2 separate regions of the Homo sapiens genome follow, and region 2 is linked to region 1. The links come from fine-mapping of genetic effects on gene expression. Tissue or cell type: whole blood. Region 1 holds a variant in brackets; the other region holds the start of a gene. All regions are shown on one strand. Distances are from middle to middle.

Evidence for each region. PIP is the estimated chance that this variant, and not a neighbour inherited with it, causes the effect.
Region 2: it holds the start of UHMK1, and the variant in region 1 is fine-mapped to the expression of UHMK1 in whole blood (TOPMed, PIP above 0.99).

The regions. Positions count from the first base shown.
Region 1 is chr1:162,523,163-162,528,394 of GRCh38, forward strand. UHMK1 (U2AF homology motif kinase 1) reads left to right here. Exons shown (of 8, transcript NM_175866.5): 8 at 1-5,232. Among named protein-coding and RNA genes, the nearest start is that of UHMK1, 28 kb to the left of the region's middle. The variant A/G (reference allele first, on the strand shown) is at 2,641.
Region 2 is chr1:162,495,591-162,500,822 of GRCh38, forward strand. It overlaps UHMK1 (U2AF homology motif kinase 1), which reads left to right and starts at 2,228. Exons shown (of 8, transcript NM_175866.5): 1 at 2,228-2,678; 2 at 4,365-4,657. The coding sequence starts at 2,411. RefSeq lists enhancers at 1,964-2,464, 2,199-2,278, 2,465-2,965.

The DNA.
Region 1 (5,232 bases):
CTGATGCTTGATCTTGCACAATTTTTATGTCTAGTATGTATGCTTGAGTGAATGTGCGAGTATGAATGATTAGAGAAAATTTGAGTCAGTGTACTTTATAGTGTGAATCCTGTGAGCTAATACAGTCTATACTTATTTCTTCCCTACCTGTTTCACATCCGTAAGATTTAAGATATACATTTTTTGAGAGGTAGTCTGTCTGATACAATGTAAATGACAAAACATAATTCCTGAGAGGCCCAGAACAAACTGGAGTCTAGCCTGGAGTTAAATTGAGACTTCTAAAATGATTGGAACAAAGACTAAGTTGTGCCAGATGTAAATCAACCCCTCTTTTAGTTTACTTTAGACTTTGTATTAGCTCATCTTTTTTGTAGTAAATCTATAGTTTTAAGGTTTCTCAAGATGTGGCTCTACCTACTATGATGAAAATTGAAGTGGGTCAAAAGAATTAGATGTACAGTGAAGGGAAAAGAAAAAAAATGGGCGAAGAGAGGGTGGAAAATAAAAGGATTCTTTTTTCTTCCTTTCTGTTTCTCGTATCCCTGCTCCCTTTTTCCTCCCCTTCCCTCATTCTTTGCCTCTATCCTTAGCTGAAGACAAACTAGAGGAGCAGCATCCCAGGTAGTTTGGCTTTTGACTGCAAGGTAGTTAAGAAAGGTGTAGATATAATGAGGTAGAAGTAGAAAGGAAGAAAAACTCAAAGAATTCTTAAAAGGATTCATAGCAACATAATGTGTCCCTGAGTAGAGGATGCTGCTATGCGTGAGTTCATGGACACAAGTTGATTACATGGTTTTTAGAATTATAATTATGGATTCTTCTTATTTCATGGTAGGTTGTCTTTAAAGATATAAAAATTAGGATGCCTTTATGAAGCACTGATTATACCAAAAAAAAAAGACAAGTTATATACAGGTTATTAATTTTTTTATTTATTTATTTTTTCCTAAGGAAAAAGTCTTCTATCTTTCCCTGCTGGAAGCCTCCTCATATTTCCTTATGTTTGCCATGCAGGTTGCTGAGAGTCCAGTTAGAATTTGCATTTTACAGAATGAAATACTTTACCCCATTCAAACAATTATTGTTTGACATTTTAGTTATTTATAATTGTCAAATTCAGGACTCTCCTTTAATGTTTATTATGAAACCAAATTTGGCATAAGGAGGCTGATTTATGAATTACCAAAGGGTCTTGTGGCATGTTCCCCAATACATGCCCTTAGAAGGAAGAACTATTATTTTTTATTTTGGCCCTTTCAGGAGTTGATTATAAATTGGTTTGTTTTCAAGTCAGAATTCAAGTGGGCAGAACCCGTATTGTGAAGACCTAAACTTTCCTAAATGTTCATATGGGTAGCAGATTTTGTGGTGATTAGAAACATCAGGTCCTTAAATACGATGAACATGGGATACAAAGGAATTCTTTATAAGGGCAAGTATCCTAAGTTAGCACATTTACTTTTCTCTCCCCTCCGCCCCCAAAAGAAAAATCCTTACAAATAAACTGCAGGTAGGCTTCTAAGCCTAGTCCTGCAGTATGCTGCTAACATCTTGATGCCAATCTTCACAGCATTCTTTGATTGTCATCTTATTGCTGATACATTCATACATATATTTAGTGCTTGACACTGTAGAATTTTGTTACAGAAGATGGTTACTAGATTTTAAGGGAGCTGAGGGAATAATTGATGAGCCTTGAATTAACCATGCATTTAATTAGATTTTTTGTTGTTGTTGTTGTTGTTTTGAGATGATGTCTTGCTCTGTTGCCCAGGCTGGAGTGCAGTGGCTCAATCTCGGCTCACTGCAACCTCTGCCTCGCAGGTTTGAGCGATTCTCCTGTCTCAGCCTCCCCAGTAGCTGGGTTTACAGGCGCTTGCCACCACACCTGGCTAGATGTTTTATATTAAAGCCAGAGAATTGAAAAAGAAATGCCTCCTGTGATTGAAATTATTTTATAGCTCTTAGCCCGTTCTACCAAAGATCACATTAGCAGATTACCCCTCCCTCCTGTGATATTATCTTTCTTAAACCTGAACCAAATATCAAAAGATACAAGTTTCATGATTAGGATGAAATATATACATAGGGATTTTGGTTTATTGAAGTTATTGAAAGACCTAGAAATTTTCTTTTTGAGAGAAAGGGTAAAGAGGTGAGGGTTCATGTCACTTAACCCCTACCCTTTTGGGCAAATTTTGTCTCAGGTAGTGTTTCATTCCCTAAATTAATACCTGTGCTTCCTTGCCTCTCACCTTCCCAGTTACTTCTTTGGGGTATTACTGTGGCACATTGTACACCCAGAAAAGGCACATACAGTGATTATTTTGTGGGAAATACTTGATTCTTTTGAAATATATTTGGAGGGGGTAGCTAGCTAGCCACTGTCAAAACTAATGCTGTATTTACAGGACAAAAACAAGTAGAGTTGGACACCTCAGTAAGAGACAGCATTAACTAAAAGTACTGACTGCCTTTTAAAGGAATTTTTAAAACTATTCTCTTGCAATAAGAGATCCGCATTTATTACCACTGGATGTCTTCCTTTTTTGTGGCCACCAATATAGCAGCTCTCTTTAGAGGGATTCCCTTTCTGCTATGCCTTGAGCCAAACTGGCTGCTTTTAGAACAAAAACC[A/G]TAAGTATGGTTTTACTCGAACTTCTCTTTGTTTTTATTGAGAGAAATATTGCCTTCTTTTTGGTACTCCAGCTGCTAAAGAGTGCTGAGATATGTTAAATTATTTTTTAAAAGAAAATCTCCAAATACTTATTTAACTTGTCTTCTAGATTCATGTTGCTTATATTTTAACTATTGAGCAAGTTTATTATAAGGAATGCTGCCATATAGAGAAAGCTGAAGAGAAACCATGGGCAGAAGGCTTTTTTCTGTCTTATTACACTGGACCTTCACTCTGGTAAGGGCATCAGTTACTTTTCTGGAATAAAAGGCGGAGTTAGAGCACTTATCAGATGCTGTTTCATGGCTTGTTTTAGTTAATTTATCATGCAGATAACTAACATTTGGGTATCTTTTTGTTTTAGGTCTTATTTTCTGACTGTTAGGCCTATCTTACACATAAGTTCTACTATCAGTATACTTGGCAGCATGACTTTTTTTTTTTTTTACAGTTAATTTAATGAAAATCAGCACCATTGTAAATGATAGTAATTGTAACAACATAGTTACTGGGTGAAGGAGTAGGGGAGACACTCAGTAACCATCTATTTACCTAGACACTTATGCAGGGGTACATGCTAGGTGGCTTTATTCAGATTCGGGTACATTGGAATCACATCATGACTTTGAGTCTGATGGCTGTGTAGATAAAGATTTAAGCAAGTGCCTTGTGTTTGCTGGAAAATATTAAAACTCATTTGGGTGAAAGCTTCCCAGATGATGATAATTAATAGCACTTCTGCCTTTTTCCTGGAGTAACTTTTAGATTGAGTCACATATGATAGTATAAAAGTCCAAAATTTTCTGGGTTTACCTTTGTTTTATTTTTCATATATATATTCACTGTCTGCCTGGAAATAGCCTTGGTTTACCTTATTTTTTTGTATATGTAAAACTATTCATATTTGATTTTATTCCAATATTATATATGATGGAAAAGCCAGAATTGTCTGGCAGAATTTAATTCTTCCTTGGATCTCTAGTTCTGTTTTTAATATCAGGTTCCTTCATCAAATTTTACTACTGTAGCTCTGTGATATAATTTCATTTCTTGTCAATTATGGTCACATATAGACAAGTACTTGGTCACAATTAGCTCAAAAGAATCCCCATTTCTTAAGGTGCTCAGTCAATCACCTTTATTTTGAGATGGTAGTTTTTCAAGTTAGTATTACTTACTAGCTTTCTTGATGAATATAAAAATGTTGTCTCCATCATACAGAGCTGAGCCTCTTGTGGTATATTAAGATAAGTCCCATTCTTAATCACAGAAGAACATGGATATTTTAGTTTTTGGAGTACCCAGAATTGTAAAGATTTTGTTTCATTTTGTTTTAGGATAGCTTCTCTGCCTAATACTATAGGATATGTCATGTTCGTTATTGTAGCCACCTCCCTCAGATGTTTTTCACTATTTTTAAATTATATAATGACCAGTAGATTCACAGTAGCATGTACTTGACAAGTGCCATGGATATTTAAGAAGAAGGTAAATAATTTTAATATTTTTTGCTGTAATTTTATAGGAGCAGTGGACTGTAAGAGAAATATCTATAAATCAGAGAGTATTTAGGAAACTTTGTATTTTATAGGTGGTCATTAAAGTGATCTTCAGGATATAAGATAGTTTACACAAACTTTATTCTCCTGATAGGAAATTTTTATTCATTTTCCTACCACTCAGCACTTTTGTTCTGCCTTGTACTGCTTATGAGGATTAATGTTTTAAATTTGCTTTATTTGTGCTTTTCAGAGAGTTGTCATAATTGTGGCAGTTGTGTTTGTGGCACTGTAAATGCTGAAATTCATGGGAAACTTACCAAATGACTGCTTGAGTGTTATTTCCCATTAAATTGGGTAGCTGTCACAATAACCAGAAGAAATCTTGTGGCCCTTTTGAAGAAAGCCATGTATGTTTTGTTACCTAGGTTCATAGTATTTTAATTTAAAGGCAAAGAGAAGCATTCTACTTATTTGTCTTATAAACCATTAATCGTTTTTTGTGCAGAAGAGAGCTTATTTTGTTATACTGCTTTGTATAATGGAAATAAGTCACATTCTGGGGGAAAAAAACTGGAATTGTTTGTATTTTGTTTTTTTGGGGGGGGATCTTTATGTGAAAAATCAGAGCTACTTGTTACCATAAGCCCTTACTATCAACAAGATAATTATTTGTAATCACTTTTTTATCCCAGGTTGGAATTGCTTTCCCCTTCTAAGTTATCTTCCCTTAATAATATTTATGATACCAGGACAGTGAGGGTATAAGAGCAAATGTAGTGAGGTATTCAAAAATCCTGCATATATGGACTCAAAAGTTCTTTAGTTATTTGAATTATATATAGCTATATTATTTTATTAGCTTGGGTTGTCAGAAGATTGCCAATTTTAAGAGTAAAGAGGAGAGAGATAAGTAATAAAAATAGAGGAGGGGAAGAAAATGGCTCCCTTACTGGTCTTAGTAATCTTCTATATAGTTAATGAGCTAAAAAATGATACTTAAAGTTCCAGGTTTGGTACCGCTAGCATAGAAACATTGCCTTTCCTACACAT
Region 2 (5,232 bases), 28 kb before region 1:
TAGTTATTCATATTTATAGTTATTTCTTGATTATATGCTAAACAAGGGGTGGATTATTCATGAGTTTTCCAGGAAAGGAGTGGGCAATTCCTGGAACTGAGGGTTCCTCCTCTTTTTAGACCATGTAGGGTAACTTCCAGGACGTTGCCATACCATTTGTAAATTGTAATGGTGCTGGTAAGAGTTTCCTTTAGCATGCTAATGTATTATAATTAGCATCTAATGAGTAGTAAGGACGACCAGAGGTCACCTTCACCACCATTTTGGTTTTGGTGGGTTTTGGCTGGCTTCTTTACTGCAATCTGTTTTATCAGCAAGGTCTTTGTGACCTGTATCTTGTGTTGACCTCCTATCTCATCCTGTGACTTAGAATACCTAACTTCCTGGAAATGCAGCCCAGTAGATCTGAGCCTTATTTTACCCAGCTCCTATTCAAGATGGAGTTGCTCTGGTTTGAACACCTCTGACAATCTGATGAGATTTTATGGTTTGTAGGCTGTGACTCCTCACATCCCTTAGATAAGAATTTGGGGCCAGGTGCAGTGGCTCACGCTTGTAATCCCAGCACTTTGGGAAGGTGAGGCAGGCGGATCACAAGGGCAGGAGTTCGAGACCAGCCTGACCAACATGGAGAAACTTCATCTCTACTAAAAATACAAAATTAGCTGGCATGGTGGCAAATTCCTGTAATTCCAGCTACTTGGGAGGCTGAGGCAGGAGAATCGCTGGACCCCAGGAGGAGGAGGTTGCGGTGGGCGGAGATGCCGAGATCATGCCATTGCACCCCAGCCTGGGCAACAAGAGCGAAACTCCGTCTTACCAAAAAAAAAAAAAAAAAAAAAAAAAATTGAGCAAGAGAGAAGACAGGTCAGAGTTTAGTCCTCAACCTCTCCTCAAACTTTCCACTTAGCACTACATGAACCATCTCATCTGGCTGGGAACTTACACAAAACCTGAAGAAAAGAAGATAGGGCCTATTGTCTGATACTAAGTTTTTGCCACACAATCAGAATAGATCTTGAAATAGAAAAGGTTGAATGACTGAAAAGTAAAGAAGGCTACATTTCTTACACACTCGAGTTTGTGGATTGAGATGCCTATTTGCTACATTTGTTACTCAATAAACGTTTGCTGAATGAATAAAATAATTGAATAAATAAATGAAAAATAAAAATTTGGAACAGATCCGTGTTTGCCCAGGGTGAATGCTTTTTGATGAGGGAGCCATAGGCAAGGTGGACTATGTTGATAAAAAGAGTTAAACTCTGTAAAATATTTGAAGAGATTTATTCTGAGCCAACTATGAGTGACCATGGTCTGTGACACAGCCCTCAGGAGATCCTGAGAACATGTACCCAAGGTGGTTGGGGTGCAGCTTGGTTTTATACATTTTGGGAGACATGAGACTTCAATCAAATATATTTAAGAAATACATTGATTTGGCCCAGAAAGGTGGGAAAACTCGAAGCGGGAATTGGTGGGGGGAGAAATGGGTCCTTCCAGGTTATAGGTAGATTTAAAATTTTTCTAATTGGCAATTGGTTGAAAGAGTTATCAATAGAAAGGAATGTCTGGGTTGTCATAAGAACTTGTGGAGACCAAAGTTTTGTCATGCAGATGAAGCCTCCAGGTACCAGGCTTCCAAGAAAATAGATTGTAAATGTTTCTTACCAGACCGAAGGTCTGTGTTGACCTTAACCGGAGAGGTATGAGGCTAGTCGGACCCCCACTTCCCGTCATGGACTGAACCAGAATTTTAGAGTGCCCTGGCCTGGGAGAAAGTCCATTCCGATGGTTGGCGACACGGGGGGCTTAGAATTGTATTTTCGGTTTACATCTAAAAGAAGAACAAAGGTCTAGGCTTCCAGAATCATGGGTTCTGGTGACCGTGGACCTGGAGGTGATGGTAAACTCTCTTTTTGTTCCTGGGGTGTTTTCCTTGGGATCCTTTCTATGAGAAATGTAGGCCGGGTTTTATTTTTCGGGTTCCTAGTGGTGAGGTAAGGTGAGGTGCCTCAACAAGAAAAAGGACCAGTTTTGGCTTCAGGTCTATGTGAAAGCGGTTAACACTGGGCCTGGAATGGTAGATACTCAATAATTAAGGTTACTTCTTATTCTCGGTTCTTTTTTCCAAACCTAGCGCGTCTAATCTCTTCTAGGCCCCGCCCCTTCTGAGCCCCCCCTCCTTCGGCCTGTATGATAGGCTCTTCCTCCATTTCCGGCTTCTGGGACTCGGGTGCACCACGGCTTCCGGTGTCATGGCTGCTTGAAGTCCCGGGAGTCGGTGAGGCGGCTGCAGGTCCCTCCCTGCGGAGCCGCTGGTCCGGCTGGCGGAGATGTGACCGCGGGCCCGGCCGGCCTGCCTCAGGCGTCGCGTCAGCTCCCGTGTCCGTGCCCTTAACCCACACCGATGGCGGGATCCGGCTGCGCCTGGGGCGCGGAGCCGCCGCGTTTTCTGGAGGCCTTCGGGCGGCTGTGGCAGGTACAGAGCCGTCTGGGTAGCGGCTCCTCCGCCTCGGTGTATCGGGTTCGCTGCTGCGGCAACCCTGGCTCGCCCCCCGGCGCCCTCAAGCAGTTCTTGCCGCCAGGAACCACCGGGGCTGCGGCCTCTGCCGCCGAGTATGGTTTCCGCAAAGAGAGGGCGGCGCTGGAACAGTTGCAGGGTCACAGAAACATCGGTAATTGCCGCTGTCTCCTTTCTCTTCTTGCCCAGGTCACAGTCCGAGCACACTCTTCCTCTCGCTGTCTGGCGTTCCATCTTCCTCCCCTTCTGCGGGAGAAGCGGGTTTAGCCCTCTTTATCACCCCATCCAGGCCCCTTTCCCCTTTCACTTTATTACTGTCTGCGGTATAGTGGAGTTGGTGGTCTGCTTTGCCAGGTGTCACATAGATGCTCAGTAAATTGTCTTGCTTCGAGTCTCATCGGAGAATGCCGCATTCATTAGCATACAGAAATATCTTTTCTAGTGAGAGGAGGCATGTCTTTGCTAGATTGTCGTGTCTTGTGTGGAAATTTTTGAATCTTTGCATACCAGTAGAAAATGGGAACTACGTCTGGGCCTTGTGACATCAATGCTAGTAACTCGTATAGCTCACCTATTATATCTTTAGTACGGATTTGGAAGAAATGATGCACTATTCCATGGGAGCCTTTATAGAAGTGTGAAATTTAGGAACACTATACCTTTGCTCTCTTGAGACTGTTTCAAGAATCAGATACTCAGAATGTAAGATATGTAATGATCACTGATGATTGATCTGTGAAAAGGTTTCATTTTCATTACACGACAGAAAGCTTATCATTAGTTATAGCTTTGGTTATTAAAGAAAAGTCTTATTTCCTAGCAAGTATGATGCATAGTTAATTTGAAGAGTGAGTTTTTTTATAATATCATTTTGGAGAAGAATTAACACTAGTGCTACATTTTTTTAGTTTACTAAATGGTCTGTTACTATAACCTTGGTATTGAAAAGGGAAAAATTTTGCAAGCCTAGGGACTTGCCTGATCTCTGCAAGATTAAAATTTCATCCGAAAAGTCTTAATCTCTTTGTTAGTATTTAGATTATAGAGAGCTGTTTATTTTTGTTTTAGTTTTTTTTTTTGAGACAAGTTCTTACTCTGTCACCCAGGCTGGAGTACAATGGCGAGATCACAGTTCACTCCAGCCTCCAATTCCTCCTAAAGCCATGCTCCTACCTCAGCCTCCCAGGTAGCTGGGACTACAGGCACGTAGCACCAAGCCTGGCTAATTTTTTGTAGAGAAGAGGTCCCCTTTTGTTACCCAGGCTGGTCTCCAAACTCCTGGGCTCAAGCAGTCCTCCTGCCTCGGTCTCTCAGAATGCTGGGATCACGGGCATGAGCCACCGTGGCAGACCTAGACTGCTGTTTTGGATGAAGAAGCAATGTTTAGTTTGGTTTTTGCGCATTGTGACATTCCTTTTAAAAGAGTTACTTAATATTTGGGTTTTTACTTTTAAAAATTTCTTTTTTTTTAAAGGACCTCATGATGCAACAGTAAGTTTTATTTATTTATATTTAGGTTTTTTACTTTTAATCATTTTTGCTTGGCACTCCAAGTTCGTGTTCATCACCAATGAGTACTTGGTGAAACACAAATTGAATAATTGTACCATATTTAGTATCTGTGAATGGTAATCAGCTGTTGTAGGCTGTCTCATCTTATTTTTATTAAAATAACCCAATTGCCAAAAGATCTTATTCATGGGAAAAATAAATTACAGTGGAAGCTTGCTCATCAAAGTTATCCTTATCTAGACTATCTCAAATTTGTACTGCAGTTACCTACTTTAGTAGTGACTTACTCTGAGTCTGATTTTTAAAGTATTATAATTTCTTTTTCTAGTGACTTTGTATGGAGTGTTTACAATCCACTTTTCTCCAAATGTGCCATCACGCTGTCTGTTGCTTGAACTCCTGGATGTCAGTGTTTCGGAATTGCTCTTATATTCCAGTCACCAGGGTTGTTCCATGTGGATGATACAGCATTGTGCCCGAGATGTTTTGGAGGCCCTTGCTTTTCTTCATCATGAGGGCTATGTCCATGCGGACCTCAAACCACGTAACATATTGTGGAGTGCAGAGAATGAATGTTTTAAACTCATTGACTTTGGACTTAGCTTCAAAGAAGGCAATCAGGTAAGAAATAACCTTTTCTTTTCTCTCGCAGTTTAAAATGTAGTGGTTGAAGCCAAATATTTTTAAATGACAAGGGTAGTTTAGTAGGGGCTTACAAGTCATTTTAACCTAAATTACTGAAATGCCAGGGGATGCAGTAAATCAAAAGAATTTCAGTGCCACCGTGTAAAAAAAGGACATAATGTTTGGGTCAGGTAGGAGGAGCCAGTGAAGCATGAGAGCTCTGGAATTATTAAAAGTACTTAACCTACATAGAATGGTTTTTTAAATTTTATGCGTGTTTGGCTAATTGCTGAGTTACTATTCCTGGTCTCTTCAGTGTTGGGGCTGTATCTCGTGGCAGAATGCATATGATAGTTCTGCCAAATCCTCTTTTCTCCATGGTTTATCATTTCTTTGCAGTGTCCTTATTATCAGCAGTGCCTAATAGGTAAGAGACAATCCAAAGAAGACTTCTTTATGAGCGCTATATGGAAATGTACAGCTTGCCTCTGAGAACTGCCCAGTTAATGAACCAAAGAATTATGGTAATCAAGGACTAAAAATTTTTAGCATTTAGCTTGGCAGTGGGTTTA